Regions from separate parts of the Homo sapiens genome. Here region 2 is linked to region 1. The links come from fine-mapping of genetic effects on gene expression. Tissue or cell type: subcutaneous fat. Region 1 holds a variant in brackets; the other region holds the start of a gene. All regions are shown on one strand. Distances are from middle to middle.

Evidence for each region. PIP is the estimated chance that this variant, and not a neighbour inherited with it, causes the effect.
Region 2: P2RY4 starts here. The variant in region 1 is the best candidate, but not a certain one, in a credible set for the expression of P2RY4 in subcutaneous fat (GTEx, PIP 0.62).

Annotation. Positions count from the first base shown.
Region 1 is chrX:70,341,936-70,346,935 of GRCh38, forward strand. KIF4A (kinesin family member 4A) reads left to right here. Exons shown (of 31, transcript NM_012310.5): 12 at 1,768-1,826; 13 at 1,942-2,047. Among named protein-coding and RNA genes, the nearest start is that of KIF4A, 54 kb to the left of the region's middle. The variant A/T (reference allele first, on the strand shown) is at 2,667.
Region 2 is chrX:70,257,063-70,262,809 of GRCh38, forward strand. It overlaps P2RY4 (pyrimidinergic receptor P2Y4), which reads right to left and starts at 3,142. Exons shown (of 1, transcript NM_002565.4): 1 at 1,104-3,142. The coding sequence starts at 2,562. The coding sequence ends at 1,465.

The DNA.
Region 1 (5,000 bases):
GCCCCCAAGAATAAACTACTAGCAATCTGAACATTTACTAGCTTTAGTTTCCAGAATATTTAACATGTATCTCATTATGAGAGACAGGTTATATTGAAAGAAATGTATTTGTATTACCATATCCTCCAGGGAGCCCCTCTGGGGTAAATATGTGGGCTTATAATCAAACATACAGAAAAGTTAAAAGAATTGTACAGTGAACACCTATGTATCTACCACAAAGAATCTACATAAATCCCATTTTAAAATAGATTCATTTAAAAATACCAGAAAGTAAAGAACCAAGTACCTCTGTCACCTTAAATCCTGCCTAATCTTTATCCATAATACCAAGTAACCATTCCTTCTCCAAGATTTTAGTTATTTTCCATCTCTCTTCCCCTAATGTTGTCACATTTCATATCCCATACTAACAGCTGCCATGGTGAGATACAACAGCTTGGAAATTAATTTTAATTCATTTTCCATGTGATTGATTTCCAAATAGTGGATCACTATATAACTGATTACACGAGTTCTGACTCCTACTACCTGCTTGTCTGTCAGTAACCTCCTGGATCAGTGCATGCTGACTCTATCACTAAGGTTTTTCTACTAGTCTAAATACAACTCAATCTTTGATAGCACGACTGTTGCCAGAAGCAAAAATAAGTTTCCACCAAAATATAATTGAACCTCTGTAATGTATACACCTTCATGCATCAGTGTGCTCTCTAGTCAAGGAAAGATAAGCTGCTTAAAGATTTCTTTCAAGTGGGCTAAATCCTACGTCCATTGTATTGTCCATTACTAACGGAGGGTGAAAATGGGATATAGGGGATTTTTATATACAGTTTTCTGTCTCCAGTGCTGTATTTATGCTTTGAAGTAACTCTAGAAGCTGTGTTTCACATGTATGTGAATGAGGCTGTTGTAACAGAAACTACTTCTTATTCTATCCACATACTCATCCGACCTTTATAAGGTTGTTACAGTGTCTGCCTGATAGGCTTATTGTTTGATATCCTGTCAGAACTTCATAACAAGCACAACATTTTTGTCCTATATAAACGATTCTTTCCAGATCTGTTATAGTATCCAGCATGTTACAGATACTGTGATTGAAATAAAACTGAAAATATCAATCACCCTTCCCAAAACGTAAGCTGCCTTCTGCTGTTTCTTCTTTCTCTACCATCATTCTTGTGCCGTACCCTTTTTCTTGCTGTCTTTTGCTAAAACTAGCCTACCATATCAAATAGTATAACTTAAAAAAAAAATCTCAGCTCAAATTTAGTGTGAGGCCCTTTTATGTTTTAAATGCCCTTATGCTGGGGCTAGGGAACAGCGTAGTGTAGGAGGCAGTTTAAAGTAAGTGGGGTTTTTTGTTTGTTTGTTTTTTGTCTTTTTTTTGTTTGTTTTTTTTGTTTGTTTGTTTTGCAAACAGCAGGGACTAACATGCCAGGAAATATTGCTTTTTCCCCTCAGTTGCAAAGTTCTCTATGGAATTAAGGCTTCACACTCCACCCCATAGTCTGAGTTTCATGGCAAGCATAAAACCTAGCTGCTCGGATGCTATTTTTAGTAGCTCATGTTGACTGAAGGGCTAATTTCCATGACTCTTTTAAAAAACACATTTTTCACTGAATAACCAAAGCCCACTAAATCCTCTGTTACAGCAAAGGAGACAGCCTCTCTACCTAGCTTTTAATTCATAGGAGTAGGAGAGCATAATTATGTGAGGCTGTCAGGCACCGCCACTGATGATCTCCTGGGTCTTTGTTGCAGACAGAGCAAGCGAATGAAAAAATGAACGCCAAGCTAGAAGAGCTCAGGCAGCATGCGGCGTAAGTTGCCCACCAGATATTTGTTAGCAACCTATAGCATCTTAGTATATAATCGTGGAGCCTCTGGCCTTTGTCATATGAATAACCCTTGGGTTCTTTTTGTTTGAATTTTCAGCTGCAAACTGGATCTTCAAAAGCTAGTGGAGACTTTGGAAGACCAGGAATTGAAAGAAAATGTAGAGATAATTTGTAACCTGCAGCAATTGATTACCCAGTTATCGGTAAGCCAAGTAGGGGCAGTGTAAATAGGCATATCACTTTCATTTGTTTCTCTTGACACATACAAGCCTTTCTAGCTCTGTGCCTTTTGCTGAAACAACTAGATTGTGAGCCGCTTTTGGACAGAGGTCGTGGATCATTTGATATGATCTGAATATTGAGTTTGTTAAAACACTCATAGGTTACATATACAATGCACATTAGTATTTCAGTATTCTAATCAAATAACAGAAGCAACAACATAGCAGTGCAAAATTGCCTAGGTAGCAAGAGCAGCAGTCATTGATTTGCTGTCCTCACAGTGTAGGCTAACTTAAAAAGAGGACTTGTACCATACCCCAATTTTAAATAAGCTAAATTCTGACAGATAGCTTAAGGCAACCAGGGAATACCATAAGCCTCTTTTATAACCAATAATAAGTAAGTTTGAATGATTGTTCTACCATAAGTTCCCATTTTTGTTTATTTTTAGAACCATTATAGTAGTGGCAGGTGTGTTTTGGGGGTGGGGTGGTTATTTGTTGTTTTTCCCAGAAGAAAAATTTTCACAATCCCACTATCCCTAAAAATCTATTTTTGTTTTGGTGTTCCATCTCTTAGTCCTTAGGCATATATGCTTTT[A/T]AAAAAAACATTGAAATCGTACTATAACATACTATGTTAAGTGGTAATGGTTGGTTTTGTTCTGTCTACACTCTGTTGTTTATTATTCTGAAACAGTGATGTGTATGCAGATGCCTGGTGGTAATTCCTAGCTCTTGGGCAGAGATTTTAATTTTACCAGAACCATGAGACTGTAGTCCCTGGTCTTGCCCAGTGTTTTCTAGAGTTGTCAATAGTGTGTCACAAAATTATCCACACATAGATTTATTCTTGAAGAGAATATTAAAAAAATGCCATGCAATATTGTCAGGACTTGTTATGATGGCCAGCTCTAAGAAATTAAATGAGTAAACTCCCCAAAGACTATTAGGCAGTGTTTTAGAATAAGGAGTACTGTAAAGCTATCATGAGCAGTCCAAGATGACAGCTCATTTATCCAACAAACAGGGTACAGTAATTGAGAGCCTGGGCTCTAGAGCCACACAGACCCTGGTTTGAAGCCAGTTCTGCCACTTCCTAGCTATGTAATCTTACTAAGTGCTGTATTACTATCAAAAGGAAAGAATTTAAGTGATTCAAATAGGGGTTAAAAGCATTATTCATCTGGGCGCAGTAGCTCTTGCCTGTAATCCCAGCACTTTGGGAGGCCAAGGTGGGCGGATCACCTGAGGTCTGGAGTTCAAAACTAGCCTGGCCAAAATGGTGAAACCCTGTTTCTACTGAAAATACAAAAATTAGCCAGGTGTAGTGGCATGCACCTGTAGTCCCAGGTACTTGGGAGGCTGAGGCAGGAGAACTGCTTGAACCCAGGAGATGGAGGTTGCAGTGAGCCGAGATTGTGCCACTGCACTCCAGCCTGGATGACAGAGCGAGACTTCATCTCAAAAAAAAAAAAAAAAGAAGAAGAAGAAGCATTATTTAGCTGATGCACTCAGGGTACACTTGAACTCCAGGTAACTTCCCAAGTAAAGCAAGATTGGAGCTTTATAGAGTAAAGAGAAGAAAGGGTTGTATGTCCGTGTGGTTTAGCTCAGGTAACAGTTTTTAATGTTAATTGATGTGAAACTTTTGGTTGGAGATTGTTTCATTTTTTTATACCTCTTCCTCAGGAATATACTGATGCAATCCTATCCGGATAACTGTTATTATATTTTGAGAGTTGTTCTTACAAGCCTTGTAGTTTCTCAGTTGGTCAAGGTTCACAGGTGGGAGAGGTGGCAAAATAGGGATAACGGGGAAAGGAGGCGAGGGTTGAAGGCAAGGAAAATTGGGAATCCTCTCTCGTGTGCTTTCTTTTATATCAGCAATGTAAGCAAAGTGCAGTGGGATCATAAAACAAAGGATGATTAACTGTTAGTCCAGAAAATTCAGGAAGGCATCATAGAAGAAACTGGGTCCTAAAAATGAACAGGAGTTTGCCATGCAGACAAAAGGGAAGGGACAGGCCAACTCTGGGCACACTGCTTACGAGTTAGCCCTGCTCCACAAGGAAAAATTTAAGAGCTTTTATATAAAATAAATAAGGTTTTTTAAAAAGGGACTAGACTATATATAGAGGAAAAGATATAGATAAAAGCAAAGAGGTATGAAAGTTTAAAAAATGGTAAGAACTTCAATGTGGCTGAAGTATAGAGTACTTGTTAGACAACGGCTATCACAAGGTTAAATTTCACAATTATAATGCCACTCAAATGCAACTGAAACATCTGATACATGAAAACCTTGTGTGAGCTGCCTCAGAATTAAGATAATCTAGGCTGCAGAAGCCCACTGGGGCCAAAACTTACAAGCTCAGAAATAGTGACCCAGGGTACCCACCATTGTTCATGGCCATCACACCAATCTTAGAGGATTAATACCACCTCATTTCTGGGGCTTCGAGTCACATAGAAAAGATGAAGGAAACCCGTGGAACCAAATTAATAAAATAAAGCATCCTCAGTGAGAATCTGGCAATATGACTGGTGCCTGGTGTGCCTGTAGAGGGAGTTGCTAGTGGTGGCTGGCTCAGAGGAACTCCGTAGAATCGCTGTGTCTGCCACTTAAATGTACTTGGCACACACAGTAGGAGGGTGCTAAAGATTGCCACAAACTGATAAAGTTCCTGGCTTCCATCCACTGTCACAGTTAGGCAGAGTAAGCCCTTTTATCCAGGAGTCCTGCTGGACTCCTGAATCAGAGTTCTCCACATCTATTGTTCGGAGACCCTCCCAGCTATATATTTTTTTGGAAATACACAACAATGTATCCCATGGCTTTTATTAAGACTCACTACAGTGAAAGCAAAATGTTTCAAAAGTAAGTGCTTGTGCCCTTCATTCTGGATTAAAACTATTTTTATTTTAAGTGACTAGT
Region 2 (5,747 bases), 84 kb before region 1:
CAAGAAGGTCCTGGATATCTAGGGAGAAAGTGGGAGCCTTTCAAAAAACAAAAAGGGAAATTCAGGGGAACTGAAGTCATTTTTTTTTCCTTCAGTCCAGCCCCAGCCCTACTCTACAGAGAGAGACGCTTAGAAGCCAATAAGAGTTAGTATCATTAGATAAGTAAGAGATCAGAGACAGGTTAGCAAGGGTGGGAAAAAAAGAAAGGCAAGGCTGGGGTCTGACTCAGGAGACCAACAGGCTGGAAGGTGATTTCAGAGGGAGAAGGCCTGTAAGTGTGAGCCCACCCTTCTCAAGAATGCCTGCCAAGAAATTCTTACTTCCCAAGGCTTAGGGGTTAGCTTCTCAATTTCCAATGCACCCCCCTCCCCTCTGCAACTTGATCCAATAAGCCTGTAAGTGCTAAGATGGCACTGGAAGAGAGAAGCAATGAATGGGTGGGAAACTTTAAAAAGAACCTTCCCAGTCCTAGTGCTCCACCCTGGCCTCAAAGTCCTGAAGCCTGATCTGAAAGAGCTGGTGACAGATTTATCATTTATTTGGGGCAGGACCTAGAGAAAGTGGAGAGATCAGTGAAACACTAGCTCTGGGCGTCAATTCTTGTCACCACCTTCCTCTGCACAAATCTGCTCTACTCCTCAATGCTAGAACTTACAGCCATAGACGTGAGAGCTCCACCCCCTCAGTCTGAGCCATCCACTTGTCCTTTTGTTAAGTACAGGAGAGCTGTCATATACATGTTCTCAGCAAACATCATAAAGAAGGTCCAGTCCCATTCCTGTCCCAAAGGCTGTTATCAGCTAAGGTCCCCACCCTATCACAGGACTTTAATTCATGCTGCACACCAGTTCAACAGTGTCAGGCCCCCAGCTACATGCGGGGACCCTGGCATGCAGGCTCCCTGGGATCACACCCTATTCCAGCATCTTGGTAAGCAAGACTATGCTGTCTTTGAGAGAGAACCAGGAAGTCAGTGTGGGTGCTACATATGGCACATCCTCGGCATCTGTGATATGGAAGTTGCCTCCACTTCCTGATTCTGGTTATCACCATCAGATACGTCAGGCCAATCCTGAGATGACTCTGCCTGATCCACCCCTTCAGCTGAATGCTCTGGTCTGGGTAGAGAAACACATGCTATAGGAGGCTGTGGGGGAAATGGGACAGGGAAAGAGGACTGGGGAAGATTTTCAGGAAGATTGTAGGACCAATGGCCCCAGGAAGGAACAGAAACAACGAGAAAGGAGTAGAAGATTGGCATTGGCTAAAAAGAGTCGGCAACTGAAGGGGTTATGAGAGATGAGGTCACCCATGATATCCCTGCCTCCCTGCAACCCTCAGGGTGAGGGCTTCTCTCCAGAGCCTGGAAAAGAGGAAGAAGCACCTTACCAGGTATCACTATTGGGTTCCCTCACCTCTGCCCTGCACTCATCCCCTTTTCTCTCACTTCCCGGCTTCCCGTGTTACAATCTATCTGCCCTAGGAGTAGAGCAGCTACTGTCCTGGGGGGTGGCCGCCCACCTGCAGCTGCTATCCTCAGGCAGGGACACTAGTGCCAGGGAAGAGGCAGCCGTGCGGGGCTGGGGCTTGCCACCACCACAGAGCTGACGGAGCTGACGTCGATATTTGTCCCCAGTGAGCAAGTAGAGCACAGGATCCAGGCAGCTGTTGGCACTGGCCAGGGGCCGAGTCACTTTATAGACCACGTTGACAATGTTCAGTACTCGGCAGTCAGCTTCCAACAGCCTGGCCAGGTAGTAAATGGTGCGGGTGATGTGGAAAGGCACGAAGCAGACAGCAAAGACAGTCAGCACCACAGCTATGGTGCGGAGAGAGCGGAGGCGAGAAGACGACTGTGCAGAGCCTGGCAAGGGCTGATACAGGCGACGAGCCATGAGTCCATAGCAAACAAGAGTGACCAGGCAGGGCACGCCAAAGAGCAGCCCCATGACCGCCGAGCTGAAGTGCACATAGTGGTCAAACTCTTCAGGCCGAGTGGTGTCATGGCACAGGACGGTGGTCCCTTTGTTGCTGGTTGTGACAAAGAACAGGTTGGGCACGAGGCAGCCGGCTACGACCAACCAAACTGCCAGGCAGAGAAGGCCTGCGAGGCGAGGGCGGCCCCAGCGTAGTGCCCGAAGTGGGTGGCAGATGCCCAGGTAGCGGTGCACGCTGATGCAGGTGAGGAAAAGGACACTGCAGTAGAGGTTCCAATAGAAAAGAAAGCGGACGAACTTGCAGATCTCAGTGCCAAAGGGCCAGTGGTTGTGGGCTGCATAATAGTAGATGAGGGTGGGCAGCGACAGCACATACAAGGTGTCTGACAATGCCAGGTGGAACATGTAGGTGGCCGTTGCATCCCAGGGTCGGAGGCGGAAGATGAAGAGCCATAGGGTTGGGGCGTTAAGGCCCAAGCCCAGCACAAAGACAACTGCATAGCTCACAGGCAGCAGGATGAACTTGAAATCCTCATCAAACCAACAGTCCAGCTCCACCTCACTGCTGCCAGGACCTGGGCTGAGGCCTAGGGATCTCAACAGGGAGGACTCTGTACTGGCCATGGCCCCCCTGGAGATGGGAAGGGGAGAAGTGAGGGTGGCAGGATTTCCCTGCCCACCCCCATCCCTGAGCTGGAGCAAAAAAAGTAGAGCAGGGAGAGCAGTGGTTGAAGCACTAGGGAGAGCTGACAGAAGCGCATCTGGGTGCACTCAGGCTAGCCTGGCCCCTACCCAAGCTCCCTTGGTCCAGCTTGGGAAGTGGTGGGCAGCAGGCAGTGCTGGGGCTCAGGCAGGCAGCCCGTGTATTTGGGTTGTACTCACTCTGCAGCTCACTCTGTCCCTAAGAGCCTGGCTGGCTGAAGAGGGTGGAGGCCTCCCAGCACTATCCAAAGTGGGAAGATACCCAGACCCAAAGTGTCTTCTGACTCGTCATCACAGCTATATCCCTGGAAGAGGAGTGTCTCTCCCCACAGTGCCTTCGCCTCTCCTAGTGCCCTGGTCACAGTGTCTCCAGATGACATTTACCTATGACACCTTCCCCACTGCCTGCCTACAGCCCAGGAGCCCCATTGCCACCCTTGCCCAAGAACGTTGGCACATCTCCTACCTGGTCCCCTTGAAGCTGAGCTCAGCTGACTCTGTCACCCTTCCCCTTGGCAGCCAGAGGGCATATCCAAGGAGGTGGAGTTGGAGGTGGGGCCTGTCCCTCCTCCCACCTGGGAGATTAAAAGAGTTAGAAAGGCCCTTTACGATGACCTAGTCCAACCCACTCATTGTACAGATTGGGAAACTGGGGCCCAGCGAGATTACTATTTAACAGCTTTGAAATGACTGCAGGAGGGAGAACACGAGGAAACATCCAAGTTTACTGATGAAGAGCCAGGTCCCTGGAGATAGATTACAGGGGGATCATACAAGCCTGTGTAAGTGAGCAGAAACATGGGAAACGAATTTTCACATGGGCAAGTGCAAGACAACACATTGAAAGATTTTAGAAAATCTAAACTACTGATATTTAATATAAATCTCATATGCATATAATTACAAAGAATGCTTATATAGCACTTACTATGTGACAGGCATTTTTCTAAGTGCTTTATACTTATTAATGACCCCATAGGCTCTCTATGAGCTAGATACTATTATTGTCTCTGCTTTGCTGATGAAAAAATGAAGGCACAGAAAGTTTAGGTGTCTTGCTAGTTAGTGGTAGAGTCAAGATTTGAACCAAGACAGGCCTGCCTTTGGATCAGGCTCTAGCATCCATAACTTAATTGCTATGCTTAAGTTGCCTCTCTAAGCCACTGGCTATGATCCAGGAAAGAATCAACAAATATTTATGGCAGACAGAGGCAGGCAGATCGCTGGAGCTCAGGAGTTCAAGACAAGCCTGGACAACGTGGCAAAACCCTGTCTCTACAAAAAATTAGTCGGGCGTGGTGGCATGCACCTGATGTCCCAGCTACATGGGGGGCTGAGGCAGGAGGAGTGCTTGAACCTGGGATGTTGAGGCTGCAGTGAGCTGTGATCGCGCCACTGCACTCCAATCTGGGTGACAAAGTGAGACCCTGTCTCAAATATAAATAATTTTTTTAAAACCACGAATATTTACTGAGAGCCTACTTTTGCCTGGTCCAGTTCTAGTTACTGGTAGTTCCTTAGGAGTGGACAAAATAGATAAAAACTCCCACCCTAATGGTGCTTACATACTACTGGGGGATAATAAAATTAATAAGTAAAATATGTAGATTGTGATCATCATTATGGAGAAAAATTAAAGAGGGAAGGAAAAGGGTAATAAAGAGGGAAGGAAAAGGGTAATAGAGAGGGTTGTTGTTTTAAATATTAGGAATGAAACCAGGCACAGTGGCTCACACCTGTAATCCCAGTGCTTTGGGAGTCGGAGATAGGAGGATCACTTGAGCCCAGCAGTTTGAGGTTGCAGTGAACTATGGTCAGACCTCTGCACTCCAGCCTGAATGACAAAGCAAGACCCTGTCTATAAGTAAATAAATAAATATTAAGGGTGACTTTTGAATAAAGGCCAGGTGTTGTGAGAAGGGGAAAAGTAAAAAATGAGGTCAGAGAGTTTGGCAGGGACCAGATCATGAAGGTCCTTGGAGGCCATTGTAAAGGACTCTTTGGTGAACGGGAAGGCACTTAGGGTTTAGAGAAGAGAGGTGTCATCTGACTTACATTTTAGAAGGCTCACTGGCCAGCTCTATATTGAGAATAGACTGCAGGGCTGGAGGTACAGGGGGAAGACCAGTCAAGAGGCTATTGCTGATAGAGATGATGGTAGCTTGGATCACAGTGGTGGAGATGATGAGAAGTGGTCAAATTCTGGATAGACTTTTTTAAGTAGGGACAGCAAGATTTACTGATGTGGGGTATAAGAGAAAGAAGAGTCAAAAATTACTCCAAAATGTCCGGCCTGAGCAACTGGAAGAATAGAGTTACTGTTGACAGAGACAGGAGTGGGTTTAGGGGAAAGATTGGGAGTTCACTTTTCAGCCTGTAAATTTTGAGATGCCTATTATACATGTAAGAGGGGATGGCCAGGAGACAGTTCATGCCTCCTTAAGGATACCAGCCAATACATTTCCCATACAGACTCTACCCCTTTCTATACAGTACCCCTCGTCTCTCTTGATCACTCCCAGAGACTTGGTCTGAATATAGTGGAGAAGGTGCAGAGAGCAAGCCTAGATGTTTGAGAGCCTGGTGTAGGGAATTGCCAGCAGCTCAGGATCTGGGGCTCCTGAAGCCAACTAAGCCTCCGTAAGTATATCTTAGGCACTAGAGGCAAACCCGGTCTGGAGGACTCTGAGGATGAGGTAAGCAGTGCCTTTGGGGAGGGGTGAGCAGGCTGGAGCAGAATCCACTCTGCATGGAGCTGAGAAGCAATGGGGACTCTGAACTTACTTGATCCTCAGGTCCTGAGAATGTCACCCAGCTGGATCCTGGGAGTGAGAGGAGGAGGCGGACTTCTAGAATCTAGAATCTAGATCTCTCGGAAAGCCCAGAAACCTGGATGGGGAAACTGAAGATCCTTGCCCTGTGGCAGAGTAAAGGGTGGAATAAAAGGTAGCAGTGGAGGACACAGTCATAACCTGAGTCCTGGACAGCTGACTACTGTGACATTACATAAGAGGCCCAAGTTTTTGAAGCCAGACGGGCTGGTGTTTAAATCCTTGCTCTTCCACTTATTAGTTATGTGAGCCTGGGCGCCTCTTTGTAACTTCCAT